2 separate regions of the Homo sapiens genome follow, and region 1 is linked to region 2. The links come from fine-mapping of genetic effects on plasma protein levels. Region 2 holds a variant in brackets. A gene starts in the other region. All regions are shown on their forward strands.

Region 1 (5,312 bases), not on the chromosome of region 2:
GGGCTGGGGCTTACTTGAAGGTTCCCCCGAAGGCCGCGTGCATTCTGGAGACAGAGGCCTGGCAGGAGACATTGGACACTTTCATCCGTCCAGCGGGATCCCGGGAGAGCTCCAGACCAGTGCGGATGGACACACCCTCAGCTGAGGCGTTGATGTAGCCCCCATCATAGCTGCCAGGGGGGTTAATATTCACTCCAGGTAGGAGCTCAATTGAGTCTTCAGTGCCCCCATGCATCACCATACCTCTTAATAAGGTTTCACCTCTTTCCACACATCCTACCAAACCTTCCTATCAACTCGTATGAAATGCATATGCCTGTTTCTGTTACACAGATGAAGAAACGGAAACTCAGGAAGGCTAAGGGGGCTGCCCACAGCCCCACAGCACCTCCAGCCCTCCTGACCCACTCTCCACTCCCCTGAGGGTGCTGGGTCCTTACAAGAACCAGTAGAGCAGCTGTCTCCGGAAGCGCAGCCCCAAGGAGGCATTGGTGATTTGAAGCATCAGCTCCTGCTGTGGCTGGAAATCGAGCTCGGAAGATGTCAGTTGCAGCTCTGTGACCTTCACCCTACAGGAGGCCTCAGGGTCAGATCCAGGGCCAAGAAGAGGGAACTTCCCCCAACGACAGGAAATTTGTCTGCTCCCCTTTCAAGTCCAGGCCTGGGGAAGCGGGAGTGGGTGGAATGAATTCTTCCATTGTCCCTCAAGTGCCCAACTTAGACTTGGGTGGCTCAAAGTTGAACTTGGGTGGCTGAGAGAGGAGGTCTTCCTGATCCAGGTGTTAAAAATGAGCTTCACCCCATCGCTTAAAAGTCTTGTTTGTTTGTTTGCCAGGTGCGGTGGTGGCTCATGCCTGTAATCCCAGCACTTTAGGAGGCCGAGGAGGGCGGATCACTTGAGGTCAGGAGTTCGAGACCAGTCTGGCCAACATAGTGAAACCCGTCTCTACCAAAAATACAAAACTTAGCAGACCGTGGTGGCACGCGCCTGTAGTCCTAGCTACTCGGGAGGCTGAGGCAGGAAAATCGCTTGAACTCGGGATGCGGAGGTTGCAGTGAGCCAAGATCGCGCCACTGCACTCTAGCCTGGGCAACAGAACAAGACTCCCTCTCAGAAAAAAAAAAAAAAAAAGTCTTGTTTGCTTGCACCCCCTCCCCTCCCACACCCTGGGGTTGCTACACCCGGTCTTTTAATAGAGTCCGTTCACTTTGCCTCCATCACCTAAGCTCCGTCTCACATCTCAATTCCTTATTCCCCCTCCCTCATCCTAAACCATACTTAGAGCCTTCAGTTTCTCCACCCCTCCGATTAACTCCACCCCGTGCCCGAGACTCCACTCTCATCTATTGGGAAGTTCCTTGACTCCACCTTTCTGTTGTTCTTCGACCACGCCTCACATCCACTGGTCCTGCTTCCTTCTTGGCCCCCTCTACATTTTCAAGGCCACGCCCATCTGCCTGGTCCCGCCTATGATGACTGGCTTGGCCTTTATCTTTTCGGCCCCATCCGGTTTCTTAAGTCTTGCCTCATCGATTTGGCCACGCCCCATCCCACTCAGCCTCCAGTCTCCCGAGACCCTGAGATTTCTCGGGCCCCGCCTCCACCGCCGAGGCCCCGCCCCGGATCGCGAGGCCCCGCCCCCCACTTACTCAGAGATGTTGTAGTAGAAGTGGCCTTCTTTGCCCCGCAGGTCCGGAATGGTGATAGTCTCCAGCTCTTGCTCCAGAAAGCGCAGCCCCTCCTGCTTCACTGAAGCAGCAGAGAAACCCTTACTTAGCTCCCGTGCCCACTGTTGGGGCGACCCCAACCCCGTCCGCTCCCGTCCGTCCCTGTCTGCCCCTGCGCCTTACCCAGCTCCAGCGCCTTGGAGGTGACGCGGATCTTGCAGCCTGGGAACTCTGCATGTGCGCCTGCCAGCAGCGCTAGGAAGAGGGCCCCGAAGAGGGCCATGGCGAGCGGGCCTGGGGGTGGGGTGGGGTCGCAGGAGTTATCTGAGCCGCTTAAACCCATTCCTTGGACGTCCAACCATAAGTGGGAACTAGCCTGGATCGTTACCCTCCAGATAACTCTTCGGGGAACTTGGAACCAATAATCTTGCCTCCATATGGCAGATGTGGAAACTGAGGCTCAGAGAGGCGATGCGACTTGCGTTCTGGCTCCCAGAGGATTTGGGACACGGGGGAGGGGACGTTCCCAGTTCCCTCGTGCTACCGCCGCGTGATGAGTTTGGACCTCCAGGGGACCAGCCCCCACACCCCCAACAACCTCCCCTTTCCTTTAGCGGTGGGCCCATGCAGGCTTGCACGTTGCCACGGCAACGACTGCACGCGCATTCTTGGAGGGTGGCTTGCGGTCTCCTAGGCCTCGCGCCCGGGGAGGAGAGGAGGTGGCCGACCAGACCGTGGGCTCCCGGGTCTCCCGGCTCCCTCAGGTCCTAAATCTCTCCCATTAGAGATTCTGCCTGGAGCCCCCATGTTAGCGTTCTCCTTCATCGGCTCTCCTCCCCACGCCGGCTTCAGTGCACCACGCGGCTCGGCGAGGGACTGGGAACGGGATAGGGACGCGCCCCAACTCACTCAGCGGTGGAGCTGGGGGGCGGCGCGGTCACGTGGGATGGCGGGCAGCTCAGGGGATCCGGGCGACGGGGTCTGGCGGGCAGGGTTGTTCCAGCCGCCTTTATAAAGCCGGCCTCCCCGACCCCTCCTCCTCTCTGCAGCTCTCCCCTCCTCCCTTGGGGGCTGGGAGGGGACGGGGCGGGACGCTGGCAGCCGGGAGAGTGGAAAAGGCTGCACAGAGCCCCGTGACAAGCCCGGCCGCTGTCTGGACAAGTGGGAGACCCAAGCCCAGGGAGAGGGAAGGAAATGCAGGAGCCGGCCCACTCAGCCCCAACAATCCCACTTTGCTGGGACCTTGGTTCAAATTACAATTATCCATGTCTTCCTGCATGATCTTGGGCAAGTCACTTCACTTGGGTCACTGACCCTCAGTTTCTTCCTTCAGCGAAATGTGCACGATGATAGGAACTACCTCTTGGGCCTTTATTACAACCAGGTCCAGGCACAAAGTCAAGGAATATTTTTTCTTTCCCTGCCACCCACAATCATCTCGGGACCTCCTTGCCTGGCTTTGCTATGGGCCCCCCTACCTGTCTCTGTGTCACCACCTGGGGACCTTAAGGTCCCAGAGACCTTTCCCACTTGGGAAAGCAAGACTAGACAAGTGCTGTCAGCCCAGGAACATACCACACCGGCTGAAATCAGAAGGAGGTCTGCCATTTATCGTGGCTGGTGGATTGTTTTTTCTATTTTTTTTATTTTTATTTTTTGAGACGGAGTCTCGCTCTGTCCCCCAGGCTGGAGTGCAGTGGCGCGATCTCGGCTCCCTGCAAGCCCCGCCTCCCGGGTTCACGCCATTCTCCTGCCTCAGCCTCCCCAGCAGCTGGGGCTACAGGCGCACGCTGCCACGCCCGGCTAATTTTTTTTGTATTTTTAGTAGAGACGGGGTTTCACCGTGTTAGCCAGGATGGTCTCGATCTCCTGACCTTGTGATCCGCCCGCCTCGGCCTCCCAAAGTGCTGGGATTAAAGGCATGAGCCACCGCGCCCGGTCCACTGGTGGATTTTTTAATGAACCCTTGGAGCAAGGTGCTCTGAACAGCATCCCCGCCCCCACCCCCACCCCCACCTCCATCTACTGCTTACAGGGTTCCCGGACCCTAGGACAGGGCACAGAGTGGGTGCTTGCCACCTTTTTGTTGCCAAATGGACGAAAGAAAGGGGAAGCAATAATCATGTCTGCTGAGCATGTATTTAGCACCAAACACTCATCTAGGAAGGATGACTAACTCATCCTGATTTGCCTAGGACTTTCCCCATTGTGTCTTTTTTTTCTGATATAATCCACAGATTCACAAAAATAGTTCCATTTCCTTTTTTATTTAATTAATTAATTAATTTTTTTGAGACACAGTCGTGCTCTGTCACCAGGCTGCAGTGCGGTGGTGTGATCTTGGCTCACTGCAACCTCTGCCTCCTGGGTTCAAGTGATTCTCCTGCCTCAGCCTCCCAAGTAGCTGGGACTACAGCCATGTGCCACCACACCTGGCTAATTTTTGTATTTTTAGTGGAGACAGGGTTTTGCCATTTTGGCCAGGCTGGTCTTGAACTCCTGCCCTCAAGTGATCCGCCTGCCTTAGCCTCCCAAAGTGCTGGGATTACAGGTGTGACCCACCATGCCCAGCCTATTTATTTATTTTTATTTATTTATTTAAGATGGAGTTTCTCTCTTGTTGCCCAGGCTGGAGTGCAATGGCGCAATCTCGGCTCACTGCAACCTCCGCCTACCAGGTTCAAGCAATTCTCCTACCTCAGCCTCCCAAGTAGCTGGGATTACAGGCACCCACCACTACGCTCAGCTAATTTTTTGTATTTTTAGTAGAGATATGGTTTCGCTATGTTGGCCAGGCTGGTTTCGAACGCCTGACCTCAGGCAATCCACCTGCCTTGGCCTCCCAAAGTGCTGGGATTACAGGCGTGAGCCACCGCGCCCGGCCGCCTATTTATATTTTTAGAGACAGGGTCTTGCTCTGTTGCCCAGGCTGGAGTGCAGTGGTACAATCACGGCTCACTGAAGCCTCCACCTCTTGGGCTCAAGCGATCTTCCCACCTCAGCCTCCTGAGTAGCTAGGACTACAGGCAGGTGGTACCATGTCATGTCCAGCTAAGTTTTGTATTTTTTGTAGAGACAGGTCTCACCATGTTGCCCAGGCTGATCTTGAACTCCTGGACCCAAGTGATCCTCTTGCCTTGGGCTCCCAAAGTGCTGGGATTACAGGCGTGAGCCACACATCCAGCCATCCCCATTTTGAAACCATTCCTGGGAACCCACTCAGTCCCTGGGAAACCTTACAACTGGTCATCCGAATTCTAGGTAATTTATTTAACCTTAACAACCTGTCAGACTGGCACTATTATGAACCCTCTTTAACAGGAAGTAGAGGTTGAAGCAATTCTGTGGCTGCTATTAGGGAATCCGTAGACTGTTCATGGAAGAGTGGAAGGTGGGCTTTATAGCCCGGTAGTTATGTACTTAGACTCTTGTGTCTGACAGACAAGAGTTTACACCCCAGGTTGTCAGTTCTTAGGTGTATGACATTGATCCCTTGCTTAAGCACTCAGATCTTCAATTTCCTCATCCTAAAATGGAAACAATAATTTAAGGTTATTGCAAGAATAAATGGGCCTGGTACATGACACATCATTAGTGCCAAATAAATGCTAGCTATCTTAATTAGGGGCACATACCACGAGCAA
Region 2 (5,377 bases):
TGCTATAACCTTGAGGGCTATTGCATTAGCAACTAGTCAGTAAGTACGAATCAAACCTCTCCAAATGTGTGATTGGATTACATTTCTCCCTTTAGGAGACTAGAGCATTTGAAATTTTTTCTTTTTTTTCAGTAGAGACGAGGTTTCACTATGTTGGCCAAGCTGGTCTCAAACTCCTGACCTCAAGTGATCTGCCCACCTTGGCCCTCCAAAGTGCTGATGTGAGCTACCATGCCTAGCCAGAGACTAGACTATTTGAAAAGTAAATTCTCAGTTACCCTATAACCCTAATGCCTGGCACAGTGACGGGCAGACTTGCAACATTTCATGGGTGGATGCACTGAAAGATTGACCTATGGGTTCCAGAGTTTCCACTTCATTTGAGTGTTATTTGCTAAAAAATACAATGAAAGTAGAATTTACGACTGAACTTAAAGATCTAGTGTATGCATTACTTACTTTAATGTAATTTAAATATTCACATTATCACTTAAATTTTAATATTGCATTCTGTTTCACTGGATTATTATATAAGGTAATATCAAAACATAAACGGCTCCAAAATTATCAAGATAAGTCAGTCCCTGTGAATGAACTTGGTACAAATCGACATAGAATCATGAGCTTAACCTTGTAGAAATAACTCTTCCCAAGAGCTAGTTTGTAAACGAGTTGCTGTTACAAACTTAGGAATCAGCTAAATCAAATCAAGATTATTAAAATGTGACTTTAGAGAGTTATTAGAAAGAAAAAAATGTTAGTAGAAAGAGATGGCCAGCAAGCAGCAAACAGCCTTCTTCGGTACACTGTAATTATCTTAATATCTGTGCAACCCCCAGTCGCATCCCCATTAAACTACAAGCTCTAAGAGAGCAGGGACATTTCTTTTTTCTCTTTGGCACCCCCAGATCCTAGCATACCACCTGACATACCATGCTTGTTGGGGTTTCTGGAAGAGCCTAGATGTTCTCCTCTTATCCCTTCCAGATTCTAAACCAGTTGAGAATCAAAACATCAGCTTTCTTAATAATAGAGTGGAAGCAAAAACAGTTTTTACTATTTCTTGCCTCAATGAGATCTTGAAGTAGGGAGAGTTTGGTCTCTAGGACAGATCCCACTCAGCTAGCTTGCTTTGCATGGAGAGGATGGTAAAGCTGGGAGTATAGAACAAATATTGTCACCTGCAGGGAATCAAGGCCTCTTGCTGTCAAGAATTGTGAAGGGTCTGAGACTGTAGCCTACTTGCAAGCTAACAAGGAGCTTGTAACTGTTTTTTGGATGCTGGCAAAATACATAAGACTCCTGAGTCAGAGACACATGAGTGTATTACTCACAGCAAATGCCGTAGCCAAACTATTAGTTTGATGGTCACACCAATTTCCCATTTTCTCTCACTAGGTCCCATAGGGAAAATATACGTGGTCCTAGATGAACCCTGAACATGCAGAGAGTTGTGTTACAAGAAAGTCTCTACTTGGGTGGTTCACTGCTTTTATAGCAGGTGGAGGCAAAGCCTGCTCTGTGTCCAGAGAGAGATGTTACCTTCTCTCTGAAGGTTGCTGCTGAAAATGCAGACTTGGGAAAGAGTACTCACAGTCTTACATTCGTGGCATACACAGAAGAACATGTAGAGATGCTCAGGGCCCATAGTAGATTGCCCCTTCTAACACCAATCAGATCAGGACCCCCTTCCCATGGGAGAGGAAGGAGAGGTTGAAGAGAATGGGGAGGAGTTACTCCAACACCTCTCTCCTGGAAAATAGAGCAGCAGTCCCCTTAAAGGGGAACTTCCCAGATATTTGCTCACTTAACCCTTGGGGTTTAACAAGCAGGTCAACTGGGCTATGGATGCTTCTCTTTGGGAAGAGAACAGAAGTTTATGAGGGTAATCCTGCTGCCACATTTACTAGGATATGTCCAGATCCACTATTGTGCCTCGTATGGTCCTCTAGGGACGAGTTGTGGGCAGTCCTAATTTTGCCCACTGTGATGGCTAGTTTTACGTGCCAACTTGGCTAGGCTATCATGTCCAGCTATTTGATGAAACACTAATGTGAGTGTTGATGTGAAGGGATTTTGTAGATATGGTTAACATCTACGATCAGTTGACTTTAAGTAAAGGAGATTACCCTCGATAATACAGTTGGGTACATAGTTGGGAGATTACCCTCATCCAATCGGTTGAAAGGTCTTAAGAGTAAAACACGTTACCCTGAGGAAGAAAAAATTCTCCCTCAAGACTACAACATTCACTGCTGCCTGAGACTTTCCAGCCAGCCAGCCTACCTTACAAGTTTCAGACTTACCAACCTCCACAACTCCATGAGCGAATTCCTTGAAATACAACCTACTGCTCTGTTTCTCTACAGAACCCAGACAGATAAACCCATGTATCAGAAATAGGCCAGAACAAGATATTAAATAAATCAGCCGACAGCTCTACTGCGTTCTT[G/T]CTCACCACACAGCCTTGTAATGGCTTACTCAGGGTCTCAAGCCTCCGGATACCTGAGAAAAAACAGACATCAATAGTCCAGCCACTGGGAGATAACAAATTGTCATCTTTGCTGTGCAATTCATATTTTCTGAACCAAAATACGAGAGCACACGGTCAAACGGATACGAATGTACTTTTGGGGAAAACAGAGGGAATATTTGAAACCTGTTTGTTCCAAAAAGTCTGGGACATAGAGTCATTTTGTTTATATAGCATATGGGCTTGCTTCACCCTATTTCTCCCCACCAGCCAGATACTCTAAATATACCTCACAATGTTCAATTTCTGGACACTGTAAGACCAAGGATCTCCCAATTACTCAACAAATCTCCACTGAGTACCTCAGAAAGCCCAGGCACCATCTCGGCATTTTGGATTAAAGGAAGAAGACGCCACTACTGCTCACTGAAGGTGCACAGCTTGATGGTGGGGGGCAGAGGGCAAGTGGAAGGACAGTCACAGAACAGGAATACCCGTGTCCCAGTAAAGCCCAGTCCCTGGTACCCACACAAGTTTCTACCACCCCACCTCGGAGGCCACATGATAGGGGCCTTCCTTCTGTGCCATTTCATCCCTTCCTAAACTCAACAAAGGCTCTCTGTACTGTTCAGAGTAACTAAACTCATTTCTCTACAGGATCACCTCAGCTGCCCACATCCATGACTTTCAGTCCACCCAAAGAGAAATCACAGGGACAAGGTTCACCCCAGTGGCAGCGTCCTTGGTCAGCCTGGCCCTTTGGCCTGCTCAGACAGGCCTCAGAGGCACCAGAGCTTGTCCTAGGCCCTAGGTTCAGGGCTCCCTTCCTTATATGCTGCTGTTTTGGGTTTTTTTGTTTGTGCGTTTGGGTTTTTTTTTGAGACGGATTCTCACTCTGTCACCCAGGCTGGAGTGCAGTGGCGCTATCTCGGCTCACGACAATCTCCGCCTCCTAGGTTCAAGTGATTCTCCTGCCTCAGCCTCCCAAGTAGCTGGGACTGCAGGCACCCGCCACCACGCCCTGCTAATTTTTTGTATTTTCAGTAGAGACGGGGTTTCACCATGTTAGCCAGGATGGTCTCGATCTCCTGACCTTGTGACCCGCCCGCCTCGGCCTCCCAAAGTGCTGGACATGCTTCTTCTGAGAAAGACTGGAGCTGACAAACATGAACTGCTGCATTCCTCTGTCCTGGATTTGCCTCCCACACTGCACTATTAGCTCTGGAATGCAGGAAGCTGCTTTCCCAGACCCTGATCCAGCTGAAGTGTTCAGTGCCCTTGTGTTGAGGGAAGGAGGAAAGAAGGCAGAGAAAGAGTGAAAGAGGCTTTACAATGAGAAACCCCAGTGGCAAAGTCAAGAGAGCATGAAGAAGAATCCTGGGATTGAATACTGTCAGCTCTTAACTTTTAGTGTGACTTTGGGCAAGTGACTAAAATTTCTGATCATCAGTTTCCTCATCTGTAACAATGGGCTCATAATAGTTCCACTTCCTAGGGATAAAGTGAGACGATGTCTGTACAGCACTCAGTGGAGTATCTAGCAAACAATAACACTCTGTGTATGTTAATTTTTTAATTATAATCATTGTATCATCACTCTTGACCTGCAATTCCTTGCTCACAAAATGAGGAGTTCAACCAGGTAACTCCCAACTCCCTTCCAGTCCAACAGCTCTGTAACTTGCTAAGGCAGAAATAAACTCTTTTAACTTACATCAGCCCCACTTCACAAATGACAATGGACACTAGGAGAGTGGAGGTGCTGGAGCCCAAGTTTGAGTTCTGCCAGATCCAGCAACCAGTTTTGGATGATTGCTAAATCCAGTTGAAAGGCTTCCATCCCTAAATTGACTTGTGTCTTGCATCTTGTCGCAACACTAAGCTAATATTAAATCTTTCATTCAGCACACATTGAATTGCTACTGATTGTCACATTGTGTCTCAGATTAGCTTTATTGCATTATATATTCAGCCACGTACAGCTCGCTGAAACCAGCATCCAGAGTCACCTCTCAGCTCTCTGCAGGCTTTAGAATGTTTTTGGGATTGTGAATTTCTTATAGAATGGGACAAAATTTTCATTGAACAACTGGCAACTTTCATTGGACAACTGACACTTCACAACTAAGGAAAAGAACCTCAAAAGCACTGTCTGCCAGGAATATAAATCACCACTGATCAATTTCAATGACTTCCAGTGCATGAATCATTTTAGTAATAAAACTGTTTGGGAAAAGACTGAAGGATTGTGTCTCTTAATCTTACACACCCAGAATCTGCTATTAAATATGTCCAGGGCAACACTGGGTTATGGATTCACTTGAAGAACCGTTTAATTCCTCAAAACGATCAGGACTCAAGTTGAATTTATAAACGGAATTAAACAGAAGATTTGTTGCTCACTAGAGTAAGTCAGTAGAGCTGAGATATATGGGTGATTTTTCTCCCATTAACGTATCTCTCAATACTCAAAAAGTAATAACTTCTGAAGAATTGCACTTATCCAGGACAAACCGGATAGAGTAACTACAATTCTTCTTCCTTCAATATTCCACATGCTTCTCCTTCCCCAATGAAAGCAATCTTCTTTTTCTAATAGAGTTTGCTTCCATTTCTGTCTACCCCTCCCTCAAAAAAGAAAATTACAAGATTAGCTAAAAATTAGATTGCAGTATATTTCACAAGTTAGTACTTAACTGACCACGTATTGATTCATGACGGTTAATATTGACTCCTAAGTACACTACGAGACCCTTAGCAGTAGAAACACCATCCGGAGTTTTCCCTGTGTTCTCCCACATATCCAGAACAGTGTTTCTCAATCAGGGCAACTTTGCCCTCGGGGGGACATTTGGCAATGTCCAGACACATTTTGATGGTCACGACTGGGTCATGGTAGATGTT

Direction of the effects. Positions count from the first base shown, and alleles are read on the strand shown. Strength reflects both the effect of a copy and how common the allele is.
For the plasma level of the protein whose gene starts at base 2,654 in region 1, allele T in region 2 goes with a higher level than allele G (moderate association).

Evidence for each region. PIP is the chance, under the fine-mapping model, that this variant and not a neighbour inherited with it causes the effect. Protein levels are from antibody-based Olink assays in UK Biobank. Linkage for the fine-mapping came from a reference panel and not from the study's own genotypes, which makes the PIPs less certain.
Region 1: PLTP starts here. The variant in region 2 is fine-mapped to the plasma level of the PLTP protein (UK Biobank, PIP 0.98).

What each region holds. Positions count from the first base shown.
Region 1 is chr20:45,909,502-45,914,813 of GRCh38, forward strand. PLTP (phospholipid transfer protein) reads right to left here and starts at 2,654. Exons shown (of 16, transcript NM_006227.4): 1 at 2,578-2,654; 2 at 1,852-1,962; 3 at 1,651-1,750; 4 at 441-569; 5 at 15-170. The coding sequence starts at 1,951.
Region 2 is chr15:58,385,992-58,391,368 of GRCh38, forward strand. No RefSeq gene overlaps it. Among named protein-coding and RNA genes, the nearest start is that of LIPC, 43 kb to the right of the region's middle. The variant G/T (reference allele first, on the strand shown) is at 2,453.